5 separate regions of the Homo sapiens genome follow, and regions 1, 2, 3 and 4 are each linked to region 5. The links come from fine-mapping of genetic effects on gene expression. A gene starts in region 5. Each other region holds a variant in brackets. All regions are shown on one strand. Distances are from middle to middle. Region 1 has its middle 130 kb from the start of DLEU7-AS1. Region 2 overlaps DLEU2 (deleted in lymphocytic leukemia 2). Region 3 overlaps DLEU1 (deleted in lymphocytic leukemia 1). Region 4 has its middle 75 kb from the start of DLEU1-AS1. Region 5 holds the start of DLEU1 (deleted in lymphocytic leukemia 1).

Region 1 (6,151 bases), 590 kb before region 5:
TCACACTGTGGTGAGAATTGTTAATGTTTGTTCCCTCAAAGGGCAATGTGTGAAAGAGGAAGAGATCTGCCATCTGCAGTGATAGACACTGAGCCCTGGGTCACATGCAGGTGGGCAAAGGGGATATCACACCTTTAAGGAATCTCAAGGCTGGAAGAGGACATCCAGCCTTTGCCTCCACCAAATGAGAGTCCACTCAGCAACATGCCTGCTAGATAAGGCTCTGCTCGGACACATCCAGAGTCAGGAAACTCACTACCTTCAGGGGAAATCTGTCCCATTGTCTTACAGCTCTTGCTGATTAAAAGAAAAGAAAGAAAACACCTGTGCAACTTCTTGTAACAACTTCTTTGCTTTTCCTGCTGATACTTTGAAGAATATGCCTAATTTTTCTTTCAAATATTTGGAGTCCCTTATTAGATGCCCTCAATCTTCTCTCATGTCAAACTCTCAGGCCTTTCCACCAACCCTTTTATGACAGGTTTTGAGACCTTTCTCAAGGCTTCTAGATGTTACAATCACAGCATGTAGGTCCCCACCTTTCCTTTTCCCCACAAACCAACACACAAGCTGGGCTTCTGTTGCCCATAACTGGCTTGGAGTTGCAAAGACAAGGATGTCTCCCAGGGCAGCCTGAGAAGTGGTCTCTGAAGAGGTGAATAAACTGGGGTCCCTTCCTCCATCCTCAGCATAGTGGGAACACTGGGGGAGGAGGCCGAAGTTCTTGGCTTCCTGTCATTATAATTATAGCAAACACAGGGCACAGATCTCCTCCTCTCTGAAGAAGGGCTGTAGGCCCCTCATACAAGAGTCCCAAAGGGAACAGACTTTGTCTCTAAGTCTTGGATTCCGGCCTTTCAGCAAAGAAAAAGGAACTGAATAAAGAAGTCCAGTGACTGCTTTCCCACCCAGGGCTCTGTGGCAAGCATTAATGTTTTGGGCTAGCAAAGCTCTGAGTCTGCACACAGCCCATTCCTGGGTGGCCTCTGCAGCTTGCAAACGTGTTCGCCTTTGTCTTGGGACAGGATGGTGGCTGGGAGGTGCAGGTCTACAGTCACACCATAAGTGGGCCAAGTCCTTGTTCCTGACACTGATAGTTACTAGAGGCTTGGAAGGATGGAGTAGGGCGGTGGGAGGGTGGCAGGCAGGTGATGAGATATTGGTTAGTGGGTACTATGTACAGTTAAATAGAAACAGTAAGTTCTCATGTTTGATAGTATAGAAGGGTGACTATAGATAACAGTAATATATATTTCAAAATAACTAGAAGTGAGGACTTAAAATGTTCTCAACACATTGAAATGATAAATGCTCGAGGTGATGGATATCCTAAATGTCCTGACTTGATAATTACATACTCTATGCATATAACAAAATATCACATGTAGCCCCAAAATATGTAAAAATATTATGTATCAATAAAAAAGAAAAAAATGTAACAGGGCCACCCCCTGTCACCTTGCTCCTTGACACTGAAACTTCTGGGTTGAGAACAGAGGGGCCTCCTCTCCAGAGGAGATACTCCTCTCTGAGTATCAGAATTGCTTGGGGAGATGTTGAAAATATTCTTCCCTTGAGGCAAAAGGGAGTGGGTTTGCACGGAGACGCTCTATGCTCTCTATGTGTTATTGTAGTTGGGGGCAGGTGGAAGCTGTCAAATCTCCAAGCTGATCTTGCCTTGTTGAGAACCACTGGTTCAGAGGGTACAGTGAGCCAAGTCTAAACTCAGGTGTCTCTCCTGTATGTCAAGGCATGCAATAAAAGCATCATTGTCACCACAGCTAGAATAATTTGCAGTGGGACCTCCAAAACACCTGGAAGCAAAGAAGTGAAGGCTGCTGGGACTGTCTCTTAGGACAACGTGAGCCTTTTCTGGACATTTTCATGATCCTCTGGGTCACCTTCATTCCTACACTGGGAACATGGCTGCCAAAGTGTTGTAGGTGTCCGATTCCACAGCTCTTCTGCCAGAGCAGGACTCAGGTTTTCTCTCCAGCAACGGTTACATCTAAGGCTTCCCCAAACTCATTCCCTTGACTTGGGGTCTCATAAGCTCCTCCTTATCCCAAGCAGAGAAGCATGAGCTGAAGTTGAAGGGTGACAGAGACTTATGCTCTATGACACATACTGGGAACCACCTGCCCTGTGTCCATTCCTCACTAACAAAATTCAGTTTTTGTTTAGTGTTATAGCAAGGGGTAGCCATGCCAAAAGGTTCTGATTAATGAGATATAAGTTGAGAGTTTCTGGGAAAGCTTTTGCTTTCCTAATACAAATGCTGCCATTTCCTATTTTGCATTCCATTTCTTCCCTCTGCTTTGGAAAGATCATGTGTTGTCTGGTGGGGCAGCAGCCATTTTGCAGTCATGAGGCAAAAACTTACTTAAGTATGATGAAATGAAAAAACTGAAACAAAAAAAAAAAAACTGGGCCTCTGATGGCATCGTTGTAGAGCCCTAGACTGCCTAATCTGAAACTTCTAGTTGTGTTAAATTTCTATTCTCTGTTTAAACTACTGTAGTCAAGGGCCCGTGGTGGCTCATGCCTGTAATCCCAGCAGTTTGGGAGGTCGAGGCTGGAGGATTGCTTGAGGCCAGGATTTGAAATCAGTATGGGTAACACAGTGAGACTACATCTCTACATAAAAGTTAGCCAGGTGTGGTGGTGCATGCCTGTAGCCCCAGCAACTTTGGAGGCTGAGGTGGGGGCAGGAATCACAGGAGCCTCAGGAATCAAGGCTGCAATGAGCTATGATTGCACTCTAGCTTAGGTAACAGAGTGAGATACTGTCTCCAAAAAAAGAAAAAAGAAAAACTGTGGTCAGGGTTTTTATTTTTGTTTAGTCATTTCAATCATTCATCTGTTAAAAATTGTTTATTAAGTACTTACTTTGTGTTAGGCACTGTCCTGGACAAAATGTAAGCTTCCTACTCTCATAGAGCTTATATTTTTATAGGGAAGAAAAATAAAACAATAAGTCAAATATATAGCATATCAG[A/C]TAATCCTAAATGCTAATAACAAATGAAGCAGAAAACAGTTATAGAAAGAATATGTGGAAGAGCGAGAGTGGAGAGCAGGTTACTATTTTAGGCCATGTGGTCAAGAAAGGCTTCACTGAGAAAGTAACATTTGAATCCAGACCGAAAGGAGATGATGAGGGAGCCAGCCTTGCAGGTGTCTGGGGGAAGAACATTCCAAGAAAGAGAACAGCAACTGCAAAGGCCCCGAGGCAACAGGTTACCTTGTACGTTTAAGGAACAGTGAAGAGGCCAGAAAAGAGTTAAGAGAGGCCAGGGGTAGGGGAGGGGATTAAGGCGAGGCACAGAAAAAACAAGGGGCCGCAGTGTGGAGAATCTTGCAGATCATCGTAAGGATTTTTGCTTCTAAAGTGGGGAAGCTCTTGGAGAGTTTGAACAGAGGACTGACTTGATCTGATACACACTTCAGCAGGATCGCTCTCGGTACCCTGTTGAGAATAAACTCAAGAGGAATGGGAAGGTTGGGGGCAGAGTAAGGAGATCCATTTTGAGGCTATTGAACCAATCCATGGAGAAAGGATGGCAGCTTGGATGGAGTGGGGCAGTGAAGTGGAGAGGAGTAGTGGGATTCTCAGTTTGACATCAACGTAAAGCCCAAGACTGTGCTGATGAAGCAAACGTGAAGGGTGTGACAGAAGAGCCCAGGAGGGCTCCCGAGGCCTTCACTGGAGCTATCGGAAGAGGGAACTGCCATTGACTGAATCAGAGAGAACTAGGAGAGGAGCAGGCTTGAAGGGATTGGGCACTCAGCGCCGTCCTAACTGGGTGTGCACAGACACATGATGAGTCTACAGGATGTGTCTTGGTCTCCCTGGACCCGAGTGTCTTCTCTGCCTCCTTCCCAGTGCAACCTCCTCTTCCCTGTTCCTGTCTCTGGTGTTGATCAGCAAGCCTGGAACTCCTGAAAGTGCTGAAATCAATACTCTGTTCTGTCCCTTATGTTTAACTTAATAAGGCCAGAAAATGGGCCAAATGAATATTTTAGAAATGTTTTGAATTAAAAGAGTGGGAAAGCTTCTGTTTGTTCAAGATTTCCCAATGAGCTCATGTTTCATAAATTTTAAAAAATCAGTACAAGGACTCCTTGGTTTTTCATGGGAAAGAGCTGGCCCCTGAGGAGTGGTCAGCCACAAGCTGGGCGTTGATGATGACCCTTTCATGTGCACTGCCCTTCACAGCTATTAAGCATCCTGTTGTGCTTTCATTTGTCACTATTTGATTTTCAACTAAATCTCATAAAGTTCCTCTCATTTGTGAATAAGGAAACTGAGGCTTGAAATGTTCAGGCCACTTACAGTCTATCTGATTAGAAATCAACAGGGGCAGAATTTTAATTCTAATATTTGGACTCCAAATGTGCTTCCTTATTTTCTATTATATGCTCTACCCCATGCAACATGAATTAGCTTGGATTTATGAAGCAGCAATGAGACCTTAAGAGGGAACATTATGCAACTCTTTGTGTGTGTGTGGGGGGGTGCCTTTGCTTGTGTCAACTGTGCCTCAAGGCCACAGTTACCCTATGACCCAGCCAGCAATTGTGACTCACTTGTTTCAAAGGAATGTGGATTGATTTGAGATTTTGAAAAGATAGATTAAAAATTTGACCTAAAGTATCTCCTTCATAAAGGGGCCACTGTGCTAAATAATAGGAAGATTCACCAAACTCTTGGTGAAGAATTGTGGCTTGAAGCCCTCTTCTTCATCTGCTGGGTTTCCTTCCATTTCCATTTGACTGACACAGAACAAATTCTCCCTTCTCTCCTTCTGCCCTCCTTAAAGCAGTGGGATACAGGGGAATTTATTCTAGATCATCTTTGAAGGACTTTCATTTTACTTGTTAATTTTGGCCCTAACCCCAAACACCTTAATAGCACTTCTTTTGTCTCTTCTCACAGTCTCTTTATAAAAAATAGAAGACAGAGAGGAAGAAGTTGGCAAAGTGTGAAAAGGAAAGGGAATAAGATTCTCACCTTTGTCCCCACCTAATCCTGTAAGATCACCTCCTTCCACAGATTGCCTGGTTTACTCTTTCTTTTTCTTAATTCCCAGAGATCTTTGGTCCCACCTTTTGGTCAAAGTCCGTATGTAGCCTCAGGAAGCATCCTGCCCTATGGGTGCTTATAAACCCATGGGTGTATTGGAAATGACGAGAAGCTGGGAGATATGAGCTTTTCACCAAGGGTATGACGGTGCCCGAGCCTGCCAGGCGTTTTTGTCAAGGGAGTTTTACTCAAAATGTACTACAAATATTTCAAAAACAATGAGGGATAGAAATAACAAAAGGCAGATGTTGGCTTGTTTTGTGAGAAATGGAATTAGAAAATGAGATGTTCATGAACCCTGCAAATGTAATTTGATACAGAAATATTAAATGTTGGCTTTCAGCCCTCTTGCTGCCCAAGAAACTCCCTGGAATTGGGTTAGGAGCCATGCAATACAACATACTGCACCATCCAATCCATTTCAGGACACTAGAGAGAGTGAATTAACATTTCTCCAAATTTGCTCCAAAATAGTCACAACTCCATGAATCCCAGGCAACAGGAACAATGTTGAAGGTGATGTCAGTGTAACCATTGTTTTGAATGTTATCTTAAGGTGGATCACTCCTGTAGGAAAAGGTCCAGGCTTCCTTTTAACTCTCTCTAATATTTTCCCTCTGGGCAGGGTAATGTAGTGGTGTGTATGCTGGACATGGGGTCAGAAAACATAGGGGGCTCCTTCCTGCCAGCTGTGGACCTGGAGCCTTTGTGGGCAGTGTTTCTGGGCCTCTCGTGTCTTTATTTGTAAAATATGGGAAATGATCATTAAAAATTCATCTCCCGCAACTCTATGGCTCTCACTCTTCATTGGCCATTGTATCTACATTTATTTACCTTGCTCAGATTTTTCCTCTCCTCTATGAAAAGGAAAGACAAAAGAAAACAAAAGTAAAACCCTGTAATGATTCAGTTTTGAATTGAGCATCTCACAGTAAGCACTTGGATTTTCAGAACATTTCTATTAAGAATAACTGGAAAACTCAAGATGTCATCATGGTTGTCTTTGTTTGGGTTGCGATAAAGCAGAGGTCCCCAATTCCTGCCACTCACCTCCTGCTGTATGGCCCA
Region 2 (6,151 bases), 20 kb before region 5:
GGCGTGATCTCAGCTCACTGCAACCTCTGCCCCCCTGGGCTCAAGTGATTCTCCTGCCTCAGTCTCCCAAGTAGCTGGGATTACAGGCGCCTGCCACCACGCCCGGCTAATTTTTGTACTTTTAGTAGAGATGGGGTTTCGCTATGTTGAGACTGGTCTCAAACTCCTGACCTCAGGTGATCCACCTGTCTCAGTCTCCCAAAGTGCTGGGATTACAGGCGTGAGTCACTGCGCCCAGCCAGCAAATCTTATGTAGAATTTTTAAGGAGTGGTGAATTTGGATTGCCAGAGAGAAAAGATAACCATTCATTCATTCATCAAAGATTTATTGAGTGCTTACTGTGTGCCAGGCACTGTTCTAAAGACACAGCAGCAAACAAAACTGTTATAGAACAGGATAAGGCAGGTCATCTCCCAGATACGACACTTTGATAGGAACACAAAATACAAATAGGAGAGTAGAAAGAGATGAAATACAAAGAGAAAGAGCTGATATTGGGCTTATATTAATATTGAAAGGCCTTACATGCTAGATATTCTAAATGGGAGAAACATGCTGGAAAGATACTTGGCATGAATGAACTTATGTCCCTATGTTCAGAACAGACTGCTTTCCCTTCTCTGTTGGTTGGCTCTTCTAGCCTCCTAGGAACTTTTATAATCACCAGTATGATCCAATATAAATACTGCACATATGAAGGTTCCCAGTTGAGGAGTTTGGAAGCAAAAAGGGAAAGAATGGCTGGCAAAGGCTTCAATCTTCTGTCTCCTTTTATCTTCCCAATGGCTAGTAGAAAATACTATCATCAATCTCTTCCTTGCAACAATCTCCCATTTGATATTTGTCTGCATTGTGACTCAATTCCTGAAGGTTCTGTTCTTCATTCCTTTCTGGTAGAATCACTGAAAAGAAAGGAGATTACATTTACATTTGCTTTCTAGTCAATCAGGTTTTTCTTATTCGCCCAGCAACACTTCTCTACAGAGAGTTTGATGAAAAGTATTTTATGTTTTATATAGGCTAGTGGAGACATGGGTATGGCAGGATGGGAGGGTAGGGAAAATATCAAGAGGCTATAGTCTTGATATATAGTACTCTTGATATAGTACAAGCTTGATATTTAATAGCTTGAATTAAATGGGCAATTTTAAAAATGAAAAGAAACATATCTGCAGTGCCTTACAAAGAAGTAACTATAAGAAGTAACAAGTTTAGTGATCATTTACCTATAGGGAAGAAATAAAATAAGGAAATGAACCTAAGATTGTAAACTTAAAGGTCCAAAAACTTGTGTTGTCACCAACAACAGCCAAGAAATTTGGAAGAAATACCTTGAAGGAAAAAAATAATGTCAGATCTAAGTGGGATATTACTAGAAGACAGAGGAGAAGCTTTCTTGATAAGCTATCTGGCCTGTTGATGTACATATGAAAGTCATCATCATACAGAAATTGAGTCCAGGCGCAGTGGCTCATGCCTGTAATCCCAGCACTTTGGGAGGTCTTGAGCTCAGGAGTTCGAGACCAGCCTGGGCAACATGGCAAGACCCCATCAATACAAAAAATTTTAAAAAGTTAGCCAGGCATGGTGACACACCCTTGTAGTCCCAGCTACTCTGGAGGCTTAGGCGGGAGGATCACCTGAGCCCAGGAGTTGGAGGTTGAAGTAAGCCTGCACTCCAGCCTAGGCAACACAACAAGACCCTGTTTCGTTAAAATAAATAAATAAAAGAAAGAAAAATTGATTGACATTCTATGGACTAATGAGGGAATGGAATGAAGATCAAATGGTTGTATATGAACTTTGATTGCAAGATAAGCTACCAATTACTGACAAAAAAAATTGAGTAACATACTGCATGATTCCACATATATCAGTTCTAGAAAATGCAAACTGGTCTCTAGTGACAGAAAACAGGCCAGTGGTTTCCTGGGGAGAGAGGTAAGAGGAGGCAAGGATTATAAAGAGGCAAGGGGAACTCTTAGGAATGATGGCTATCATCAGTTGTATTTCTTCCTTTCTAACTTGAATGCGATTTATTTCTTTTTCTTGCCTGATTGCCCTGGACAGAACCTCTGATGTTGAATGAAAGTGGTCAGAGCAGATATCTTTGTATTATTCTTTATCTTACGGGGAAAGGGAAAGCATGCAGTTTTTCATCATTATGCATAAGGCTATCTGTAGGATTTTTATAGATGTCCTTTATCTGGTTGAGAAAGTACCCTTCTATTCCTAGTTTGCTAACAGGTTTGGTTTTTTTTTTGTTTTTTTTGTTTTTTTTGTTTTTGGTTTTTTAAAATCAGGAACAAATATACGATTTTGTCAGATTTTTTGGGTGTCTATTGAAATGATCAGATTTTCTTTTTTAGCTTAATATAGTGACTTACAATGATTAATTTTTTAATTTAAAGCAATGACATATTTTTGGGATAAACCTCATCCAGTAATATTAACTTTCTTATATTTTGTTGGATTTGACTTGTTAAAGTTTCGTTGAGAATTATTACATCCATGTTCAAGAGGGAAACTGGGCTATAGTTTTCTTTTCTTGTAATGGCTTTGTGTGGTTTAGGTATCAGGGTAATGCTGGCCCCCAAAAATAAACTGAGACGTATTCCTTCCTCTTCAGTTTTCTGGAAGATTTGTATATAATTGGTATACACAGTGTTATCCCTAAGTGTCTGGAAGAATCCACTAGTGTTTCTTTGTGAGAATATTTTTAACTATTAATTTTTTAAAAATAGATACATAGCTTTGGAAGTTATCTATTTCTTTTTCTTTTTTTTTTCTTTTTTTTCTTTTTTTTTTCTTTTTTTTCTTTTTTTTTTTTTTTTTGAGACAGGGTCTCACTCTTTCACCCAGGCTGGAATGCAGTGGCATAATCAGGGCTCAATCTCGCAAGCTCAAGCGATCCTCCCGCCTTAGCCCCCCAAGTAGCTGGGACTACAGTCATGCACCACCACACCCAGCTAAATTTTTTTGTATTTTTAGTAGAGATGGGGTTTCTTCACATTGCCCAGGCTGGTCTCGAACTCCTGGACTTAAGTGATCTGCCCACCTCAAACTCCCAAAATGCTGGGATTACAGGTGTGAGCCACTGCACCTGGCTGTACTTCTTTTTGAGTAAGCTTTGGTAGTTATGTCTTTCAAGGAATTTGACCATTTCATCTAAGTTGTTGAATTTTATTTGCTTAAGGTTTTTCATAATATTCC[C/A]TTGCTATTCTTTAAGTATCTGTAGAATTTGTCATATTTCACCTCTCATTCCTGATATTGGTAATATGTGTCTTCTCTCTTTTTTTTTTTTTTTTCCTGATCAGCGTGGCAAAAGATTTATCAATTTTATTTATCTCAAAGAACCAGGGTTTGGTTTCATTAATACTCTCAATTTATTTTGTTTTCCATTTCATTTATTTCTACTTTGATCTTTATTATTTCTTTTGTTTCTTTGTGTTTAATTTGTTCTTCTTTTCTAATTTCTTAAGGTGGAAGCTCATTAACTTGAGACTTTTTATATTTTCTAATATAAGCATTTTGCTTATGTCTTCCTACATACTGCTTTAGTGGCATGCCACAAAATTTGATATGCTTTGTTTTCATTTTCATTCAGCTCAAAATGCCTTCTAATTTTACTGCACTCCTATTTTAATCAATGGGTTATTAGAAGGTTATTTAGTAGCATGTTATTTTGTTTCCAAACATTTGGGGATTTTCCAGACAGCTTTCTGTTATTGATTTCTAATTTTAATTCTACTGTAGTCAGAAGACATACTCTGCATTATCTGAATCCTTTAAAATTTACTGAGACATGTTTTATGGCCTAGAACAGGGGCAGGCAAACTTCTCTAAAGGGTCAGACAGTAAATATTTTAAACTCTGTGGGCCACATATGATCTTTGTCACATATTTTCTTTTCTTCTTAAAGAAATCTTTCAAAATGTAAAAACCATTTTTAGTTCATGGACTATACAAAAACAGACTACATTTGGCCTCAGGGCCATAGTTTGATAACCTCTGGCCTAGAATATGATCGATTTGGGTAAATGTTTCATGTATACTTTGAAGAGAATATATATTCTATTACAGGTTGAGTATCCCTTATCCAAAATGCTTGGGACCAGAAGTGTTTCAGATTTCAAAGTTTTTTGGATTTTCTGAACATTTATATATATATATATAATAAGAGATCCTGGGAATAGGACCCAACGTATTGGGTCATGTTGGTGCTCAAAAAATTTTGGATTTTGGAGCATTTTGTATTTCAGATTAGGGATGCTCAACCTGTACTGTTAATTTGGTTACAGTGTTGCTTGAGTTTACTATATCCTTGTAAGTTTCTACTTGTTTTAGCAATCATTTAAAGAGGGGTATTGAAATCTCTAACTATGGATTTGTCTGTTTTTCCTTGCACTTCTGTCAGTTTTTGATTTACATATTTTGAAGCTTTTATTATTTGAGACAAAACCATGTAGGATTATTGTATCCTTCTGATTAACCAGCCCTTTTATTATTATAAAATGGCCTTCTTTATTCCTGGTAATATTATTTGCTCTGAAATCTACTTTATTTCATGTTAATATAGCCACACCAGTTTTCTTTTGACTAATGCCAGCATCAGTATGATATATCTTTTTCCATCCTTTTACCTTTTTTTTTTTTTTTTTTTTTTTTTGAGACAGAGTCTCACTCTGTCTCAAAGTGACTGTACTTTGAGTCACTCCAGGCTGGAGTACAGTGGCGTGATCACCACTCCCTATAGCCTTGACTTCCTGGGTTCAAGCTATCCTCCCACCTCAGCCTCCCAAGTAGCTGGGACTACAGGTGTGCACCACCACACTTGGCTAATTTTTTGTGGAGACAGGATCTCACCATATTGCCCAGGCTGGTCTCAGACTCATGGGCTCAAGTGATCCTCTTGCCTCAACCTCCCAAAGTGCTGGGATTACAGGCATGAGCCACTGTGCCTGGTCATCCTTTTATTCTTAATGTTATTATGTCTTTGTGTGTAAAATGTGTTTCTTTTTCTTTTTTTTTTTTTTTTTTTTGAGACGGAATCTCGTTTTGTCTCCCAGGCTGGAGTGCAGTGGCATGATCTCTGCTCACTGCAACCTCTGCCTCCTGCATTCGTCCAATTCTTCTGCCTCAGCCTCCCAAGTAGCTGGGATTACAGGCACCCATCACCATGCCTGGCTAATTTTTGTATTTTTAGTAGGGACGAGATTTCGCCATGTTGGCCAGGCTGGTCTTGAACTCCTGACTTCCGGTGATCTACCTGCCTTGACCTCCCAAAGTGCTGGGAGCCATCACACCCAGCCTAAAATGTGTTTTTTTATTGAGAGTATATAGTTGGATCTTGTTTTTTATTTTCCTTTCCCCCACCATCCAAAATTTTTTGTTTCGTTTTGTTTTGTTCTAAGACAGGGTCTCACTCTGTCGCCCAGGGTGGAGTGCAGTGGCACGATCATGGCTCACTGGAGCCTTGACTTCCTGGGCTCAAGCGATCCTCTTGCCTCAGCCTCCCAAGTAGCTGGGACTACAGGCATGTACCACCACACCCAACTAATTTTTTTTTTTAATTTTTTATAGAGATGGAGTTTCACTTGTTGCCCAGGCTGGTCTTGAACTCCTAGGCTCAAGTGATCTGCCCTCCTTGGCCTCCCAAAGTGCTGGGATTACAGGGATGAGCCACTGCGCCCAGGCCAAAATCTTTTTAATAAGATAGAGGATCCAGGGTTAGTTTTTGTAGCCTTGGCTGGCCCATCAGCCTCTGATGTGCTTGAATTTCTGGTCCCTGGAGTGGACACAGGGCTTAGTGTGGCTATGCTGGGTTCCCAGGGCCTTGCTGAAATGCCAGTACACTTCTTGGCCCTTGTGAGGCCCAGAGAGCAGGATGGTGCCACAGCCTTTGAGGGTGTCCAGGGTCAGCTGGTCAAAGGTGAGAATCTTGTCCCCAGCCTTGGGGATTTGGCTGCAGGCCCAACTGCTCATGTGCAGTGCACACACCTTCAGTTTGGGCACCTCCTGAACATGGTCCCCACAACCACAGCTGTTTTGTTTTCCTGGCCAGGAAGCTTCATCTTCCAGATCATCCAGGAAAGAGACAGAGATGGCCATTTGGTGCAACTCATAAATAACCTCTTCACCACAACTTGG
Region 3 (6,151 bases), 72 kb before region 5:
GGCCTACCCCCGTGCCCAGCTAATTTTTTTTTGTATTTTTAGTAGAGACAGGGTTTCATGAAAGAATGAATGAGTGAATTGTTGGATAGACTAAGTATCTTCAATAAATGCAGAAAATGCCAGTGTAGAACCATATTACACTTTCTTCAAAAATGCTATTCTACTCTGCTTGTTAATTATCTCCTTAAGATAATTTCACTTTTTTAAATGTTTTAAGGCATTTGTTTTACTAGCAATGAATTAAATGTTAGTTAAGAATCTGCACGTCTAATCCATTTAGATATAGCATGTATTTTCTTCCTAGTTCATACATCTCATAAAATGCAAAAAAAAAGTATAATCCTGCTAGCATAAGTCATTAGCAGACAAAGATAAAAACTCATGAGCTCTGTGTTTTATTTTATCTCACATTCTGCTTCATAGTCCAACCAAGTTTCATAATGAAAATTTTTCTCAGCCGACGCCTCAAATGCTTTATTCTTCAAATACAATTGATTTGACCAATATCGCTGTGGTTTGGAAATGTTTTTCTTCCTGTTGGTCTCTGCCATGATCTCCTCTGGATATAGTTCAATTAGATGCCTTCTCACTTTTTCACAAGTTGCCTGTTATTGTAAAAGTTTGGGAAAACTTTGAAAAAGAACTATAAAACGTTTTCACTGTCAATAGAAAAAAATGGATTGCTTGAGCCAGACACAGCTCCCCATAGAGCTAACCTTTTGATCCTGGAATCCTTTCATGCGCTTAAGTCTTCACTAGCGTCAATGGGAGTGTTGTGTATGCAAGGGCAGCAGGATCAAGTTCAGTCTCTTCTTTAGTACTCTGTAGCCAAGTGGGGTAGCCAGCTGAATCTGGTTTAGTTAAAAAAAAAAAAAAAAAAAAAAAAACACAACACTTTCCTGATGCTTTGAAGTTTTTTGGGCAGTGTAATAATATCAGGATTTGTAGGACGTTATTTTGCATAATCCTTAATAAGATATTCTTATGGCTTCAAAAAGTTAGTGGGTTAAGAGAAGCAAGAACCTCCAGCACTCATAGGAAATATTTTTTTAAGTTCTGGGTAGAAATGGCTCAAAATGCATCTCGGGAAGATACATAATTATAAGACTGTCCAAATGTGTGTTCAGGCAGGAATGCACCTAAAACTATTCTTCATAGATGGATTTCTACTCTATCTTTAAAAGATAGAGATATAATATAATAATCTCTCAAAAGCTCTGATGAAAACAAAGAAGCTTGCTGGAGGATTCTACTATGTGTGTGGATTAAGTAACTCTGTGACTAATCCAACTATTTGAATCAAAACAAGGCATTCCTTTAGAATCTTTATCACTCTAACCTCACACTCACTCACTGATGAGGACTTTTTTCCAGGCAAGGTCAAAGGGCTGACCAAGGTGATTCTGCACCACCAAATAGAAAGGAGGCTGGAGAAGGGAGAAGTGCAGCGGCAGGATACAGAAGCCACAAAATCTCTCTGCTGGAAGCCAGTTCACCTTATTATTACCAAGAAACTGAGGTTCACTTTCTGGCATTTTGGCCTGAGCATTAAAATTTTAAATTAACACCATTGAACACAACCTACTCTTTTTTTTAATGAGCATTTTATTGTCACTTTGTGGAAGGGTACTGAAACCTCTGATTTAGTATAATCATATGATTATGATTTATTCATATTGGGAATTCAGCAGCATGGGCAACAACAACTCGGGTCTGGGGGGAAAAAAAACAGCCTCACTAAATAAGGGATGGTCCCACCACTAAATATGGGGTTAGGAGTGAGTTTCTCTTTGGTTAAATACACATGCACACATATTTCAGTAGCACGACAAAGCGAAAACAAACAGAATAAAGGTGAACATTGTACTTGGTAGTTGGAAATGAAGTGTGTCATTTTAATATATATGAATAACTGATTTTTCCCCACTTTTTGGAATCCAGATGTTGGTAATCTTTGCCTCAGAATGACGATTGCCTTTTTAAGAAATCTCTTAAAACTTTAGTAGTGGTCCTCACACAAAAAGACACTGGGTCTGGGCACGGTGGCTCATGCCTGTAATCCCAGCAATTAGGGAGGTTGAGGCAGGCAGATTACCTGAGGTCAGGATTTCGAGACCAGCCTTGCCAACATGGTGAAATTCTGTCTCTACTAAAAATACAAAAAAAAAAAAAAAAAAAATTAGCCAGGTGTGGTGGCGCATGCCTGTTATCCCAGCTACTCGGGAGGCTGAGGCAGGAGAATCGCTTGGACCTGGGAGGTGGAGGTTGCAGTGAGCTGAGATCGTACCACTGCACTCCTGCCTGGGTGACAGAGTGAGACTTCATCTCCAAACAAAAAAAAAAAGACACCGACCTAGAGGTAAAAATATTCAAATTCCCTACGTTGCTACCTCTGACAAATGAGAACTACGGGTCCACACAAGTTCACTTATCAGTATACCCACCTAAAAGATGCATCTTTCCCTGTTTGGGGGCATATGATAGAATTATAAAAGTAAATGACTTCATTAAGATAAAATAGGTCTCTGGTGTTTCAAGACAAAACCACTGGACAAAGAACAGACAATGCATAAAAGAAATACCTAATGGCCAATAAATATACAAAGAGATGCTCAGCCTTGCTTGTAATGTAAATAATGCAAGGAAAACCAGTACAGCAATTTTTCTATCAGGATGGCAAACTCTAAAAGACTGACAGCAATGTAGGCATGCAGGGGAATGTGCGGAAACAAACACCTTTGTGTATTGCTGATGATAATGTAAATTTGTATGACTTGAGCATAAACTCAGCCAACTCAGCAAGTTTATCACTATCAAATTGTTAAATGTTTCCACCTTTTGACCCAACTTTTAAGGTTTCCTTAAACAGATAATTGTACATGTGAACAAAGAAGATGCAAAAACATATTAATTGCCATGTGATTTATAATAGTGAAAAACAGAAAATAAATTATGTCCACTAATAGAAGATTGGTTAAATAAATTATTGCTCATTCATTCAACCATTGGTTGAGGGCCTACTGAGTGCCAGATAGTATTCTATATACAATATATATAATGCATCCATTAAAATAATGATGTAGATCTATAGTGATTAGTATGGAAAAGGTTACAAAAGTTTGTATTGTATTTTTTCATTTTGTAAGAGTATGTATATATTTACTTATATATATTTATATGTGAATATATATGCATTGAGAATCATCTGTAAAGATGACCACCAATATGTTATATTACCCATGGTTATCTCTAGGATTGTTGTTGTTAGTATTGATCTTTATGAGAGTCATCTGTAAGGATGATCACCAATATGTTATACTACTAGTGGTTATCTCTGGGACTGTTGTTATTATTGATCTTT[A/G]TATTTTTCAATACTGCTTGAATATTTTTACAATAAAGCTATATAATCTTCATACTCTAAAAATATTAGGAAAATTTTTGAAGGAAAAAAGAAACCTTTTGGTCAATTTAATCTTATTAATATGCAGGAGAAAATACCACACAGCCACAGAATTCCAGAAATCCAGCTGCAGTTCTAAGAAGTAAGACGCAAAAGCAGATGCTTGCCCACAGGATGAGGTAAACAGGGACGAAGCACAACGGTTCCATAGAGCTGAAATGCACAATGCAGCTGAATGTACTCTACTAAACTCGAAATCCAGGCCAGCAAAGTCTCCGAAGACTGCAAAGGCTAAAAACTAATAACAATAAACATATCATACACAGGGCTTTTATATAACTTGGAGGTCATTTGCATTGAAACATTGGTCCTTTAACAGTCTATAATGTTCCTAACTCTACATATTATTCCTCTTCCTTTAAAAAATAATTTTCCATGCACCCTCCCCATCCTCTTAATCCTACAAGACAGTTTTCAGTCTGAGCAGGTGGGGAATGCATATCCCAGTTTAAAGGCTAAAATACACTTGGCTTTACCTGATTTATGTTTATCTTAGCCAGAGTATCAAGTGCATATCAATAGCACTATCGTAATGCACATATATTTCCTTATTCTGCCATAATAAGTAGAATCAACAGGATGTGCATTGTAAAGGTAGATAGAGAAACCATAACACAGAGTGATATACCAGACAGAACTCATGCTAGAAATTCTCCCATGAATCTGAATACATGAATAGCTGGCTCAATATGAGCAACAACACAGAAACCTACAATCATATCCGATCTTTTTTCTGCTAGGAATGAACATTCACAGATTTCTCATGTTAAATGCTTGCAGCAATTTCTTAAAAGCCAGGACTTCCACTGTGAGAGGTGTACTACATATTCAACTTTGAATTTTTTAAGTTTTTGTTATGCTGTTATTTAATCTTACTGGGTTACATTACATTTTTCTACCTTGTACTATGTATGCACATAAAACAGCTGCTTTCTGAAATCCATATAAACTTCTGCTCCAGGTCTTTAAGATGGAATCAAATCCCAGCAGTAAGCAAACACCTTGCTTTTCACGGTTTTTACGATAAAAATTGAAAACGAAACTTGAAGACATTTGGTTCAGTCAAACGGAACAAACAAAGCAAGTACTATAGTCTGGTGTCTTTTATTAGGCCAACTTTGAGTTCTGAACACTCAGCTCTCTTGACTACACAGGAGTCTTAAGAACACGTGTTCATATGCACATGTATCTAACTTTACCATGGACTCATAAAATGCATCAAACATTCTACTTTTGTTACTTTCAAAAAACTGTTTTAAGGAATCAGGATAACCAGCCAGGGGATTTTTAAAAACTGAGAAAAATCTTCCGTGGCATATGACCTTTCTGATTAGAGAAAGGGCATATACAGAGGGTTGGCCAAGCTTCAGGTGGCCATTGTTAGTGAAGCCAAAAGACTTCAGTTAACTGTGTTACCTGTGCCAGAAGCACCAGGCTCCCTCTGGTTTCTCCAACTTACTCCCCATTTGTTATATTCTTTAGGCAAAAACTCCAACCTGAAGTACTCTGCTAGTGTTCGTAAAAACAAATTAGGCTGTATAGATCTGAGTGTCTTGCAAAAGCAAAGAAAATTTAGGAAGTCCCAAAAATATCAGACTGACCTATGTATTTTTCGGACATTCACCAAGTTAGTGAGAATAGGTCTGGTTACCCCTATTGGGCAAGGAAATGGTAACAGTTCAGGTTTCTGGGATTTACATTAATAGTTCAAAGTTAGACAGTGGAGTGGGAGACAGAGTGCAAGTCCTCTCCTTGCCTGCCAAAGCACGTCCTCACTGTGGTTGCTTCTTTAAGAATCTTTGTGAATGAAGCATTAAATGAAATGATTAAAAGAGAAAGAATACACCATGTTCATTATTCTGACGCTGCACAGTAAAAGTTACTTTCATTTTCTTTAATCACATTTTTGTAGAATGGTATCAGAAGTTTAAAACAGTCTAATCTCAAACTTCTTAAATAGTTGAAAGAAAAATCTCTAGGATAACAACTGAAGTAGTATAATCTTTTCTTATAACTGTTCAGGAATAAAAGGTTTATGTTTGCTTGTGTGTGTGTGTGTGTGTGTGTGTGTGTGTGTTCATAATCAGTGATTCATACTGAATCAATACCTTTTGTGGTTTTATTGAAATAATATGTTTGAAGTAATCAAGAAAATTTTTAACCTCGATTCAAATTTCAATACTTAAAGCTTAGTAAATTATTTATAACTTCTGTGCATTCAAAGGGAACAACCAAAAGATGAAAAGATAACCTATGGAATGGGAGAATTCACAAATCATATATCTGATAAGGGGTTAATATCCAGAATATCTAAGAAACTTGTGTTTTTACAACAACAACAAAAAAAACACCTGATTTAAAAATGTACAAAAGACTTGAATAGACATTTCTCCAAAAAAGATACACAAATGACCAACAAGCACAGGAAAAGATACTCAGCATCACTAATCATAAGAGAAATGCAAATCAAAACCACAATAAGATATCACTTCACACTCATTAAGATGGTCACTATCAAAAGAACAGAAAATAACAAGTATTAGTGAGGATGGGGAGAAATTGGAATCTTTGTGCACTGTTGGTGGGAATGTAAAATGGTGCAGTCATTATGAAAAACTGTATGGAGTTCCCTCAAAAAGATTAAAAATAGAACTACCATATAATCCACAAAGATATTACGCAAAGCAAAGC
Region 4 (6,151 bases), 520 kb before region 5:
AATCCCAGCTATTCAGGAGGCTGAGGTAGGAGAATCACTTGAACCAGGGAGCTGGAGGTTGCAGTGAGCCAAGATCATGCCATTGCACTCCAGCCTGGGCAACAGAGCAAGACTCCGTCTCAAAAAAAAAAAAAAAAAAGTCTATATCCAACAAGAAGGAAATGGATAATCTATCTGGTCTGGGAAGGGCCCGCATTGGCCCAAACCACTCATTGATAATCTTATGTTTCTTAGGAGACTCTGATTCTCTGGGTAAAAATGTGTTTAACTCGAGAACATGAGAATGCAGCTAAGACAGGCAATTCTTCATTAATTGGAGGCTAATTATGTACTTTCTCCATCATCTCAAGTCTGACTGTCCCCTTTCCCTCCCCTTCAAGCTGCTGGCAACCTTAACTCTACCATAGGATGGGGCCCAACTAGCCCCAGTGACCATGCTAAACAGCAGGTACAAGGGACCTGTATAGGCCTGAATCAGTCTTTGTGTGCTTGGGAAGTATAGACTCTCCTAAGGAATAGATTGGAAAATGACAAGGTAAGAAAGTCCTGGACTAAAGAACAAAGGATGCTTTGGAAAAACAGGATCAGGAGTGTCCTGAGAGAGGACATTCACCAAACAGTGAGGTACAATTATGCCAGAGAGAAGAGAGAAACCTCATCAACGTTCCCTTAACTTATGAGTGCATGAAGCATGGGTTTGATCCATGTTCTCCAATCCTATAGTCAGGCTCTGGGTGCAATTACTATGGGGAAGTCTAATAAATTTAAGTTTTTTTTTTGTTTTTTTTTAGATGGAGTCTTGCTGTGTTGCCAGGCTGGAGTGCAGTGGCGTAATCTCGGCTCACTGAAAGCTCCGCCTCCTGGGTTCAAGTGATTCTCATGCCTCATCCTCCTAAGTAGATGGGATTACAGGCATGCACCACCACACGCAGCTAATTTTTGTATTTTTAGTAGAGATGGGTTTCACCATGTTGGCCAGGATGGTCTTGATCTCCTGACCTCGTGATCTGCCCACCTTGGCCTCCCAAAGTGCCAGGATTACAGGCGTGACCCACAGCACCCAGCCTGGACGTTTGTTAAGTGCAAACTTTGTTAGGTAGTAAGAGGAGGAAATGAGAAGGCAGTCTGCCTGTCTTCATGGTAAAAAGTGCAAAACAACATGATCCAATCAGCATTTCCATGTGGGGCCCTCCCATCTCTCCTGGACCCCCAGCTTTGAGGGCTGCCCTCTCCAATCTCCCACCTGAATCTGCATCCAGTGAAGAGTAGCTCATGCTTCAGAGCTCTCCTTTTAATTTCCCCTGTTAAAACATCCAAAGCCCCTTTCTTCTGTAGTAGCTAGACTGAAAGAAAAATCTCATGAATTAATTCTCACTTACAGGCTGATAACTAAGAAGTAGTTACAAGTTTTGACAGATGACAAAACAGACCCGAAGAGTTTAAACTACTTGCTCGATTGCACATAATGGGCCAGAGGAGACTCCATGACCCTTATTACTTGTCCAGTGATTCTCCTATGTATCCTTAACATAAAGAACTCTATGAAACCAAGAATTTTCACCCAAAGGAATGAGTTGTTTCCTAAGGCAAATTTTCAGGCATTTAGTTTCACACATGAAAAAAATATTTTGGATCAATGGAATTTTGGGGCTTTTATTACACCACATAATTCTATCCTACCTATGTTTAGGACTACACTTGGCACCCCAAAATTCAAAGTTTGCTTTCAGGCACAAAATCCACATATCGGAAACTGAATGACTTAAAAGAGGGGAGCATGTGTTGGTGGAAAGCAGTAGAGAACTAGGAGTTGAGAAGCTTTGTTTGGGGGCCAACTCTATTAGCTCCCGACTATGTGACTTTAGGCAGGAAACCCAGGCAGAATTGCCTTGAGATGGAAAAGGGAGAGCTAGTGCAGATCACAACTGGCACAGAACATGGATTTCTCCAGTTACATCTTAATTTACACTCAACCAGATATGAGTGCCCATTGATGCATGGATGGGGCCAGCCCTGTGCCTGAGGAGGTGGAGGGGAGTTTGGATCATAATCCCAAAAGACATAATCCCTAACACCATCATCCTGAATGTCGAAATACCCAAAGATCAAAATCCCTAAACAGAAGATGGGAAAATGCAATATGGGATGCCCAAGTCGGTATATAACAAATCATAGAAGAATTTCAAAAAGAGCAGTGCCACAGAGAAAATGAATGTGAACATATTCTCCAAAGAACAGCCATATCCCTAAAGAAAGAAAGCAGCTACTCATCATGATGCAAGCCTTCAAAATGTAGTTAATCAGACTGTGTGTGGTGGCTCATGTCTGTAATCCCAGCACTTTGGGAGGCTAAGGTGGGAGGATCACTTGACGCCGGGAGTTTGAAACCAGCCTGGGCAACATAGTAAGACCCTGTCTCTACAAAAAATAAAAAACAAAAATTAACCAAGCATGGTGGCACATGCCTATAGTTCCAGCTACTCAGGAGGCTGAGGTGGGAGGATCACTTGAGCCCAGGAGTTCAAGGCTGCTGTGAGTCTTGATCATGCCACTGCACTCCAGCTGGGGTGACAGAGCAAGACTTAGTCTCAAAAACTAACAAACAAAAAAGGTAATGATCGCGAAAGCTGGCCAGCTGCTATGTACCATCTCCTTGAAATTGCCCATAATCTATCCCTGTAATATACTTTTTCATATGTCAAACTTTTAAAAATTTTTTTAGGGCTTTTTTGTTTTTTCTTTTTGCTTTTCCTTTGTTTAATTTTTTTTTGACTTTTTAAAATTATCGGCACTATGTTTTACAATTCACTGTGTAGCGTATTACATCTCTGCATAATTTCCAACAATAGAGGTAAAGATGTTTAGAGACTTTAGAGTTTTAATTTGTTTCATGCATATTTTGCAAATTCAACTTTACAAAAGTGCATTATCGCAATATTGACTTTGTATGTAAGACTTGTGTGGCATGTAAAAACATGCACAATGTTTTTACATTAATTATCTCCTCAGTAAATGAAGAGACATCCTTTTAGTACATCTGTGTTTGTGAAAGATAAAACGTCTCAAGATCTTGGCTCTTTGAGCGATTGCATATGCAGTGGTGACCATCTCAGCTTTTGATTTCAGATGAACTCAGTTATGAAGCTGGGTACACGCCATTACCAACCATAATGATATGCATTTACACATTTTGCTTTTTGACCTATTTCTTTATGAATATGGCTCATCTACTAGTAACTGTTATATCCATGCTGCTATTGTTAGTGTACCTGTGCTTATGCTGGCAAAAATATGTATGTTATTATTGC[G/A]TATCTTATTGTGCAAAGTGGCCTATGAAGTTTTCTGTGGTGTTTCTACGTGTTTCTCAAGTTAGTTCCCCTTTAAAGTGTGAATAAATATATTTTAAGGAATATTTTAATATTTTTTTCCAGAACGATATTTTTAAGATTTCGATATTTTTGGGATTTCAACATTTGAGATTACAATGTTGGAGATTGTGTCTTTTGGGATTGTGATTGGCTCTCAGTGGAGAGAAGTCCTGCAGCTCTTAGCACCTTCATAGAGGCATCTTACAATGCCACCCTCATCTTCAGGGAGTTTGTCCTCCCTCACCTTTTATATTTTGAGCCTTAAAGTCTCTGTTTTTGCAGAATATTTGAGTAGCTTGATCACCTGGTTAAAACCCTCTCCCAGGCCAGGTGCAGTGGCTCATACCTGTAATCCCAGGGCTTTGGGAGGCCTAGGTGGGTGGATCACTTGAGGTCAGGAATTCGAGACCAGCCCAGTCCTGACCAACATGATGAAACCCCGTCTCTACTTAAAATACAAAAATTAGCCGGGCGTGGTGGTGGGCTCCTGTAATCCCACCTACTCTGGAGGCTGAGGCAGGAGAATCGCTTGAACTCGGGAGGTGGAGGTTGCAGTGAGCAGAGATTGCACCACTGCCCTCCAGCCTGGGCGACAGAGTAAGACCTTGTCTCAATAAAACAAAACAAAACAAAAAATAAAACCCTCTCCTAGCAGGCCTGGACACCTTCAGACAAATACATGAAAATAGTCTGTGTCTATTCCTCTGGGAGGCATTGGTTTTTACTGATTCTTACACAGCTTCCATAGCCTCGTTTGACTGTCTTCCACCATTTTGGGTTGATAATATTTATGTACAATTTTATTCTTTTATAAAACTTACAACTTGCTAATGTTTATTTTTCCAATTTAAAAAAGTAACACATATTCACTTTGGAAAATTTGGAAAACAGAGAACAAAGAAAAATAATAGTTTCCTGTAATCCCACTCTCACAGAGCACCACTTTTAATGTTTTGGTGTTATTTCTTTTCAGTCTTTATTCTCTGGATATAATATATGTTTAACTTAGTTGGAATCAATTTTATATCCAACTTATTTTTTTCATTTGACATGTTGTCATACATAGATGTATGGATATTCATTAACACAATGTTCTTGATCACTCTAGGTCAATATCTAGACCTATTGTAGCAATTCTATTGCTGCAATATGCAAAGAGATGTTCAAATAATACCTTGAAAACAGCATAACCTCTCTAGCTCTCAGGCTCTTCATCAATAAAATATAAAATACACAATGTTGATCTACAGGGTCCCCAATAAAATTCTTTAAAAATAGGATATGAATTTGGAGGGACATCCTTTCTACCAGGACTCTGCCACAGGGACCCTAACCATAAGCACCAAGGACTTGCCTAAAGAGTCCAAGAACAAAGCTCTTTGGTCCATCGTAGATATAGACCCAGCTGACATAAGAAACCAAGACTGGCATAATTTTGTTCTTGGTGAGTAAAGCCTGAGACAAGTGAACTATTTTCACCATGGAAACTCCAACTCCTGCCATTTCAGATGCCATATATTACATCTTTCTGGGATACTAGTTTCATGTTGTCATGAAAGGACAGTCAGGATAGTGTAGCATAGCTTGGAGTTTTCCTCTAAAAGGCTCATTTCCATATTGTTAGCTGTTTGTTGTTGTTTGGCTGGTTTCAGCAAGTCCCCCTGATTGTTTTGACTGTCCTTGTTTCATTTGGTTCCTGACTTTCAGCTCTATTTACTTAGCATTATATCCTCTTTATTTAGGCCACCTCCTACCCTAACCTTGTTTTGTCTTTTTGTCTTATTCCAAAAAGGCTTCAGAATCCTGACAAAACAATCATCTCTCACCAGGCCCTTTGCTCTGTGTAAGGCTGGAAAACAACTTCTGAGCAATCTCCTTTTCCTCTTTAGTAACAATAGACCTTTTCTGATTTTATGCAGAACTTGGGAAAATGTTTAATTTCAGAAATGCCTCAAAAGGAGTGGAGGAAGTGAATTTGGGACTTAACTCTTTCTTCCAAGGCTTAGAATCTTCAAGTTGTACCTACAAACCCCTGGAAATAATTTTACCTGAAAGCACACCATTTCTCCAGTAGTATAGTTAAACGTGGTGTCACTTTTATAAAAGCGCCCCAATATGAATTTTCAGTATAATTACTCAGTTTCGCTTTTGTGTTCACTCTTTCCTAGCAGGTTGAGAACAGATGACTTGAAAGAAAATGGTAGATACATAAGAACATATCTAGTTTCCAGGGGTGGTACTGGACCTTGGTAGATCAGATGGGGCCAAAATCTTTCCTCCACTAAAAGTGCTCTTTGGAATTAAACCGTCTCACCAGAAGGCCTTATTACAAAGCACACATGCTTGTCAGCAATCTGGTGAACTACATTCCTTCACCTGGGAGGCACAGATAACCATATGGCAAAGGACGAGGATAGATAGTATTTCTACTAGGAAAGAGACACAAACTTGGGAGAAATAATACCATCTATCAAAATTGCTTTTATAACAGTAGTAATTTAATGGTACATTTTCTTAGCTCCAGTTTACTTTGATGTATTGAAGATATCAATAATCATTGCACAGATTGTTTTTAAGATTAAAGGAACACATGTATTTAAAAAGACTGCCTCAGCACCTGATACATTATAGAAGTTTAATAAATAGTGGTTAATTAAAAAAAAAAAAAAAAGCACACATGCTGCAGGAGACAAGTAACAGGTGAGCACCTGGCATAGTTTGAGAGCAAACCAAGGTAAAAATGAAGACAGAGGAGAAGTGGGAGGGAGTCAGAGTACAGGAGC
Region 5 (6,151 bases):
GCTGGTGATTGCATTTCAGTTTCCAAGAGCAAAACCCCAGATTTTAAATTATGACTTCAGTTCTACTCTTATTGACAAGTAAAGAGGGGTATGCAGAGACACAAACTAACTGTGAGTGGAAAGGGGTGGGGGAGGGATGATTAACTCTTGACTGTATTGAAGAAAGCAAGCTGACACTTCTGCCCTAATTGAGCACCTAAGTAATTGAGTTCTTTCTTCTTATAAAGTACATTACTTTGTAGGGTATTAAAGTTCCAGGCAGGAATTCTTACTAGTTTTAACCCACGAATTTGATGGTCTAAAGTAAAAGCACTTTTCCCGTTTTTCCTTTGAAATTTAACTCAGGAATTTGCACCCCCTTGTGGTCAAATATAAAATTCTTAGTTTTCAAAAGACCGTTTTTTACAATCGGGCTCTCTGTTCAGGCATAGGAACTACTGTATGTTAGTTGATTTTGTTTTCTCCCATTTTAGCAAATCAAGAAGCTTTCATGAAAGATTTTTTCTTAAATAAGACTTTAAACACAATTAGACTTAAATCTTCTAAAAGTGACTTACACATAAACTTTAGTCTCTGCAAAATAGAGATAATTGCACCCACTTAATGAGTTACATGATGATTCGATGGAAAAATGCATGTACATGCTTAGCCCAGTGTCTGACACATATTAGGTCTTCAATAAATGTTATCATTTATCATCATCACTTTAGAATTCTCTTGACATATTATATCTAAAAGGGGACTAAGATAAAAAATTCTACAGTGAGGAAACCAGATTGTGCTACTTACCTATTTGTAAGTTCTAGTACAATTTTACACATGTCTCCCAAATATACCACTTATCCAGACCCCCCCTAGCTGATTGTCCCCACAGGTACATTATATTTTTAAAGTACAAACAATATGTGGTTATCCCTGAATGCTAGAAATTTGGATGATTTTTACTTTATATATATTTTAGATGGGCCTCGGTTTTTTAACCTTAACAATCAGAAAAAGCAATAAATCTATTCCATTTCCAGGTATTATTCTTATGAGATGGTAAAATAAATTAACATCCTTATTTGCCTAACAGGGATCATTATTCATATTTGGGAAAAATCATTTGTCAGTTTGATTTATCATTTTAAGGAGCTCTTGAATAAGAATGCTAACCCCGCCCAGCGCGGTGGCTCACGCCTATAATCCCAGCACTTTGGGAGGCAAAGGCAGACAGATCACGAGGTCAGGAGTTGGAGACCAGCCTGACCAACATGGTGAAACCCCGTCTCTACTAAAAATACAAAAATTAGCCGGGCGTGGTGGCGCGCACCTGTAATCCCAGCTACATGGGAGGCTGAGGCAGGAGAACTGCTTGAACCCGGGAGGCAGAGGTTGCAGTGATCCAACCAGCCTGGGCAACAGAGTGAGGCTCCCTCTCAGAAAAAAAAAGAAAAAAAATGCTGACCCCTAAAGGCACTAACTGTAGTTTGATTTTTGAACAACCATTAAAGAAGCCAGTTTAAAAGATCAATGACTGACTGACAATAACAAACATTTACTAATATGCCAAGCACTGTTGAAATTCCTTTAATATGTTAGCTCATTTACATCCTTACAACAGTCCAATGAGGTATTAATAGTACTTGTTTTACAAAAGGTCCAACAGATAATTTACCCAACAAGGCACAGCTAGTAAGTAGTGGAGCTGGGATTCACCCAGGCAGCTCGGTTCCAGAGTCGACCCACTTAAGTAGTGCAAAAAAGTACCAGAGATTAAGTAGTGTATTTATACTACTCTGCCACGTTACTTCTTGCTGATCTCAAATTGCTAAAATCCATTTCTTTTCCAAGACACTTAAATAATGCAAACCATGCTACCCTTCTCCCACTTCCTTATTAGTACTTCAGGCACTTTCATATCTACTCTCTTATTTAACATTCACAATGAAGGTTTTAAAATATTTACAACTTTATAGGGCTCCACGCGGTGGCTCACGCCTGTAATCCCAACACTTTGGGAGGCCGAGGCGGGCGGATCGCGAGGTCAAGAGATCGAGACCCTTCTGGCCAACATGGTGAAACCCCGTCTCTATTAAAAGTACAAAAATTAGCTGGGCGTGGTGGCACTTGCCTGTAGTCCCAGCTACTCGGGAGGCTGAGGCAGGAGAATTGCTTGAACCCGGGAGGCGGAGGCTGCAGTGAGCCGAGATCGCGCCACTGCACTCCAGCCTGGCGACAGAGCGAGGCTCCGTCTCAAAAAAAAAAAAAAATTACAACTTTATTATCGTTAATTGTCCTATCAGAGTGCCCATTTTTTTTGAAGGTAGACAGGTTTGCCTAGATATGGTGCTTCTACTTACCAGTTCTAAGACTTTGGGGCAGATTTCTTAATCTGAACCTCAGGTGTCCTCATCTGTAAAGTGAAGATAATACCTACTTCATAAGGCTGTTGTGAGCAATAAACACGATTAATTCGTAAATCATTTATTTAGCACAGTGCCCAGCACACAGTACACAGTCAATACGTGGTAGCTGTCAGTATACCAACGTGTTGCACAACAGAAACTCGTCTTTGCTGGATTCAGTTCACTTATCACGCCATTAAAAAAAAAAATCATCCTAAGTGACACAGAAAAACTGCCCATTCCTATCTCAAAAAGTTTATGAACAAGTTAAGACGGTAAGAGAAACTGAATTCAATGAAAGCGCCTTCGCAACAGGCAGCTTAGGACCGGGAAGAAGGGCTTCAGCAAACTTAATCATTAACTCTAGGCAGGCGCGCGCGCACACACACACACACCGTTGAAGAAGGAGACCACGCCTCCTGTGTGGGCTCAGGTTGAATCGTACAGCGTGGTAGAGAACTCCAGGGCTGCTGAATCTGACAGATGTGGATTCATCCACTTCTGTGCCACCTGTGCTGTCTTGGGCAAATTACTTAACGTCTCTGAGCCTAGGTTTCCTGGTCTTCAAAACGAGAACAGTAATAGTTCCTACCTGGTAAAGTTGTTCCGAGGCTTAAGTGCGATAACCCCTGTAAAGCGCTGGAGAACGGCAAAAGCTCTACAAGCCGGCAGGGCGGTTTTAAATGCACGTGTATCCATATACAAGGTCTCATTGATACATTCCGTTGTTTGGAGTTTAGACACTGGCTGTAAGACGTTTTTCTTTTCTCCTAAGCAGGACCCGTATTTGTTTACCTCCAACGTAGACTAAATGCCTGTGGGCTGGTAGCTATAAGACGACCCCTCGGCCCCACAACCTCTAAGTTCACTTCACCTCCGCGGCTTTGCAAAAGCGCTACACGCACGCGCAAGAAGCAAGAGGACTGCAACCGAAGAAGCAAAGGGAGAGCCGTGCACCACGATGATTCTGCGCATGTGCCTGGCGGGAGGAGGGGGGAGGGTTGGAGTTTGCGCATGCGTAAAAATGTCGGGAAAGCAAGAGAAGGGGGGTTAAGAGGCGGTATTGACAGCTGTGGAGGCAGCCCGCGTTCCCGGCATTCCCTGGGGCGGCGGGGTTGGCTCTAACGAATTTGAATGAGGAGCCTCAGCGCTTTCGGCGCCATTTTCGAGTGATGCCTGATCTCATCAATCTAGCGGGAGAGACAGGATAACCTGTCCGAGAGTATAGCGCCACTATGACTCCGCCGGAAAAATTACTTTAAAAATCGCCAAAAATTACTTGGAGCAAAGGGCAGTCGGCGGAGCTTCGCCAAGGCTGGCGCAGTCGGTAAGAGCCTGAAGAAGTAGCAGAGCGGGACTCGGGAGGTGGCAGTGGTGGGACCCGCAGGCAGTGGTGGGTGCAGGGAGTGGGCGCGGGGTCTACTCTCACTTAATCGCGAAAAATCCGAGGAAGTAGGGTTAGGGGCAACTTGGGCGTCTGCGAGTGGGCGGCGGCGGGCGGAATGTGGCGGGAGCGCGGAGAGACGGGGCTGTGGGGGGAGGGGAGCTGCAGTTTGAGCGGGACGCGGACCGGCTGCGGCGGAGCAGCCGCCGCCCAGCGGATCTGTCAGCAAGACCCCCCGCCCGGGACCGGAGCCGGGGACGGCGCACTGCGGGGTCTCTGCAGGCGGCCGCTCCTTGACAGGAGGACTGGACGCGCGCCCCTCCCCCATTTCCGAACCGGGCCGCCTTTTCTCGCCGTTTTCTCGACCCGGTGATGGCCGTCATCTCGTGACAAGAAACTTAAGGTCGACAGAAAATTCAGGACCCGGAGTCATGGGTCCCTCCGGTGGGTCGTGGCAACAGTCCCCCCCGCCACCGCCCGGCACCCATCTATCTATATTGTCTTTTGACGCTGAAGCGTGAGGTGCCCCAGGAAAGAGTTTCCCAAGCCCTGGCTGCCCTCCCCCGGCGCGCTGGGTCCCGGTGAGGTCTCTAGGTAGGTAGGACTGGCCGCGGCTCGCGCTTCCAAGATGGGGCAGGGGCAGGCTTTTGAGGTTGTAGCGGGCTCTTAGGAAAGATGCTGGACTTTAGCTTCTTTCTGGGGATTTTTGTCATTTGCTCTCGCAGCGTTGTCCTTTCTCAAAGGGGAGGAGTGTTCACGGGTGAGATGAAAGATGGGGCTTCGAGCTAACGATTTCCTTCTCGTGGCTATTTCCTCCGAGTCGCACTTTCTTAGAAGACTTTTTTCTTCTCCGGTGTTTGAAACATGTCGCAAGGAAAAAAGCAATCTGTGAAACTATTAATGTTTTCCTCCCCCAAAAGTCTTTACCCGGACAACTTAACGGTAATTTTGCGATCCCCACCTTTTCTTGACGCTGAGGAGGAGGGACGAGAGTTGTTATTTGTCTTTCCCTTCGGTGATTTTTTTTTTCCCCCTTAGCTGGTGGTTTCTATCAATTCTTACTCCACAGCTCTTGAGTGATGTGAGCCAGTGACGGCATTAACTTTAGGTAATACTTCTATGGCCTTTGTAAAAATCCCGCGTTAAGGATGTATTAGATCTTGAGTTCTTTTCCGCGCTGGAGGCACCACTAGATTAACCCTTTGCCGGTGTATTGCGTGTGGGGCGCACGGCTCTGGGTTGCAAATATTCCGGAGATGCTTTCTGCAGCAGCTATTCTGTTCAGTTGTTCGCAAAGAGGAATAACGCTTCCTGGGAACCGCGGTGACACGCTTCTTTAGGACTGCCTGCCTACAGAGTTTTTCCCCGTGGAATTGATGTAACGATTGATTTATTTCTTATATTCTATGAAGACTGGGGGACCCGCCCTCGCTTAGAATGTTTCCCGGAGGAGAATAGAAGAGTGCAATGTGATGTTTTTCAAATTGTGTCTAACGGAGCTCCCTAAACTCTGGACTTGTTACCCCCTGATTGGCTGGAAGGAAGCGGGCCTGGGGGGTTTGAATGTTGAACGCTAAACTATAATTCTCGACTTTACGAAAAAATATACTTTTAGCCAGAGAACCACGGAAATAGCTACGAAACGTTAGGACGAGAGTTTAGAAAAAAAGTTGGTTTTTAATAGTTTTTTTTCCTCTCAGAAAGGATTTTCGTGTGGTTCTCAAATGTATATTAAAAGTAAAACTGAAGAGGCTGTTTTCGCAAAATTATGTTTCTGCTGGTTGAAATTAACAAGACTTTTATATATTTGTCACTGTTCTTTATTGGTTAAAAACTGAGTGAAAAATTTAGTTTTTTTCCTTTGATAGGAATTTTTCACCTTAAACTACATATATTTGTTGGATGCAGATTACCGGACAGTTGTTTCTTTTATTTTGATGCAAAGAAACTAATTTTCTTAAGGTTCACGAATGATCTTTTTAACATTTTCCATAAAAATTGAACATCTTATTTAAAAAACTTTTCGCATCTAGTGAAAATATACATTTTGCTAATTCAGTAACTGCAGTGAACTAAAACTTTAATTTACAAAACATTTATGTTTCTTAATTTAGACAACAGGTAAGCACAGGTGCGTATCTATTATTTAGTTCCTTTGATAAATTCATTATGAAGAAATATATTGTATACAACAGTGTGGGTGTGCTGTTTTTTATCTGGTTGATTTTCAGTTGATTTTTGTTCGATGTTGCCTGAGACAGCCTCAGTATATTTCCATTTATTACCGAGCTTGTCATTCCATTTAATTGCATCTTGATAAAAGGCAGGTGTCGTTTTCAAAGAACAGCGGCAAACTAACTGATAAACAGCTGTAGATGCT

The links. PIP is the estimated chance that this variant, and not a neighbour inherited with it, causes the effect. A credible set is the group of variants that fine-mapping cannot tell apart.
Region 1: its variant is the best candidate, but not a certain one, in a credible set for the expression of DLEU1 in tibial nerve (GTEx, PIP 0.62).
Region 2: its variant is the best candidate, but not a certain one, in a credible set for the expression of DLEU1 in whole blood (INTERVAL, PIP 0.77).
Region 3: its variant is the best candidate, but not a certain one, in a credible set for the expression of DLEU1 in whole blood (INTERVAL, PIP 0.90).
Region 4: its variant is the best candidate, but not a certain one, in a credible set for the expression of DLEU1 in tibial nerve (GTEx, PIP 0.82).

The regions. Positions count from the first base shown.
Region 1 is chr13:50,670,580-50,676,730 of GRCh38, reverse strand. No RefSeq gene overlaps it. Among named protein-coding and RNA genes, the nearest start is that of DLEU7-AS1, 130 kb to the left of the region's middle. The variant A/C (reference allele first, on the strand shown) is at 2,999.
Region 2 is chr13:50,099,456-50,105,606 of GRCh38, reverse strand. All of the region lies in intron 1 of DLEU2 (deleted in lymphocytic leukemia 2), which reads left to right. All of the region lies in intron 2 of DLEU1 (deleted in lymphocytic leukemia 1), which reads right to left. It also overlaps the pseudogene RPL18P10. Among named protein-coding and RNA genes, the nearest start is that of DLEU1, 20 kb to the right of the region's middle. The variant C/A (reference allele first, on the strand shown) is at 3,215.
Region 3 is chr13:50,151,527-50,157,677 of GRCh38, reverse strand. All of the region lies in intron 2 of DLEU1 (deleted in lymphocytic leukemia 1), which reads right to left. Among named protein-coding and RNA genes, the nearest start is that of DLEU2, 29 kb to the right of the region's middle. RefSeq lists an enhancer at 4,611-4,660. The variant A/G (reference allele first, on the strand shown) is at 3,362.
Region 4 is chr13:50,599,700-50,605,850 of GRCh38, reverse strand. No RefSeq gene overlaps it. Among named protein-coding and RNA genes, the nearest start is that of DLEU1-AS1, 75 kb to the right of the region's middle. The variant G/A (reference allele first, on the strand shown) is at 3,309.
Region 5 is chr13:50,079,386-50,085,536 of GRCh38, reverse strand. DLEU1 (deleted in lymphocytic leukemia 1) reads right to left here and starts at 3,368. Exons shown (of 7, transcript NR_109974.1): 1 at 2,980-3,368; 2 at 2,343-2,395. The region is part of intron 1 of DLEU2 (deleted in lymphocytic leukemia 2); the gene reads left to right. RefSeq lists enhancers at 2,444-3,239, 4,857-4,916 and silencers at 3,397-3,446, 3,847-4,066, 3,930-4,224.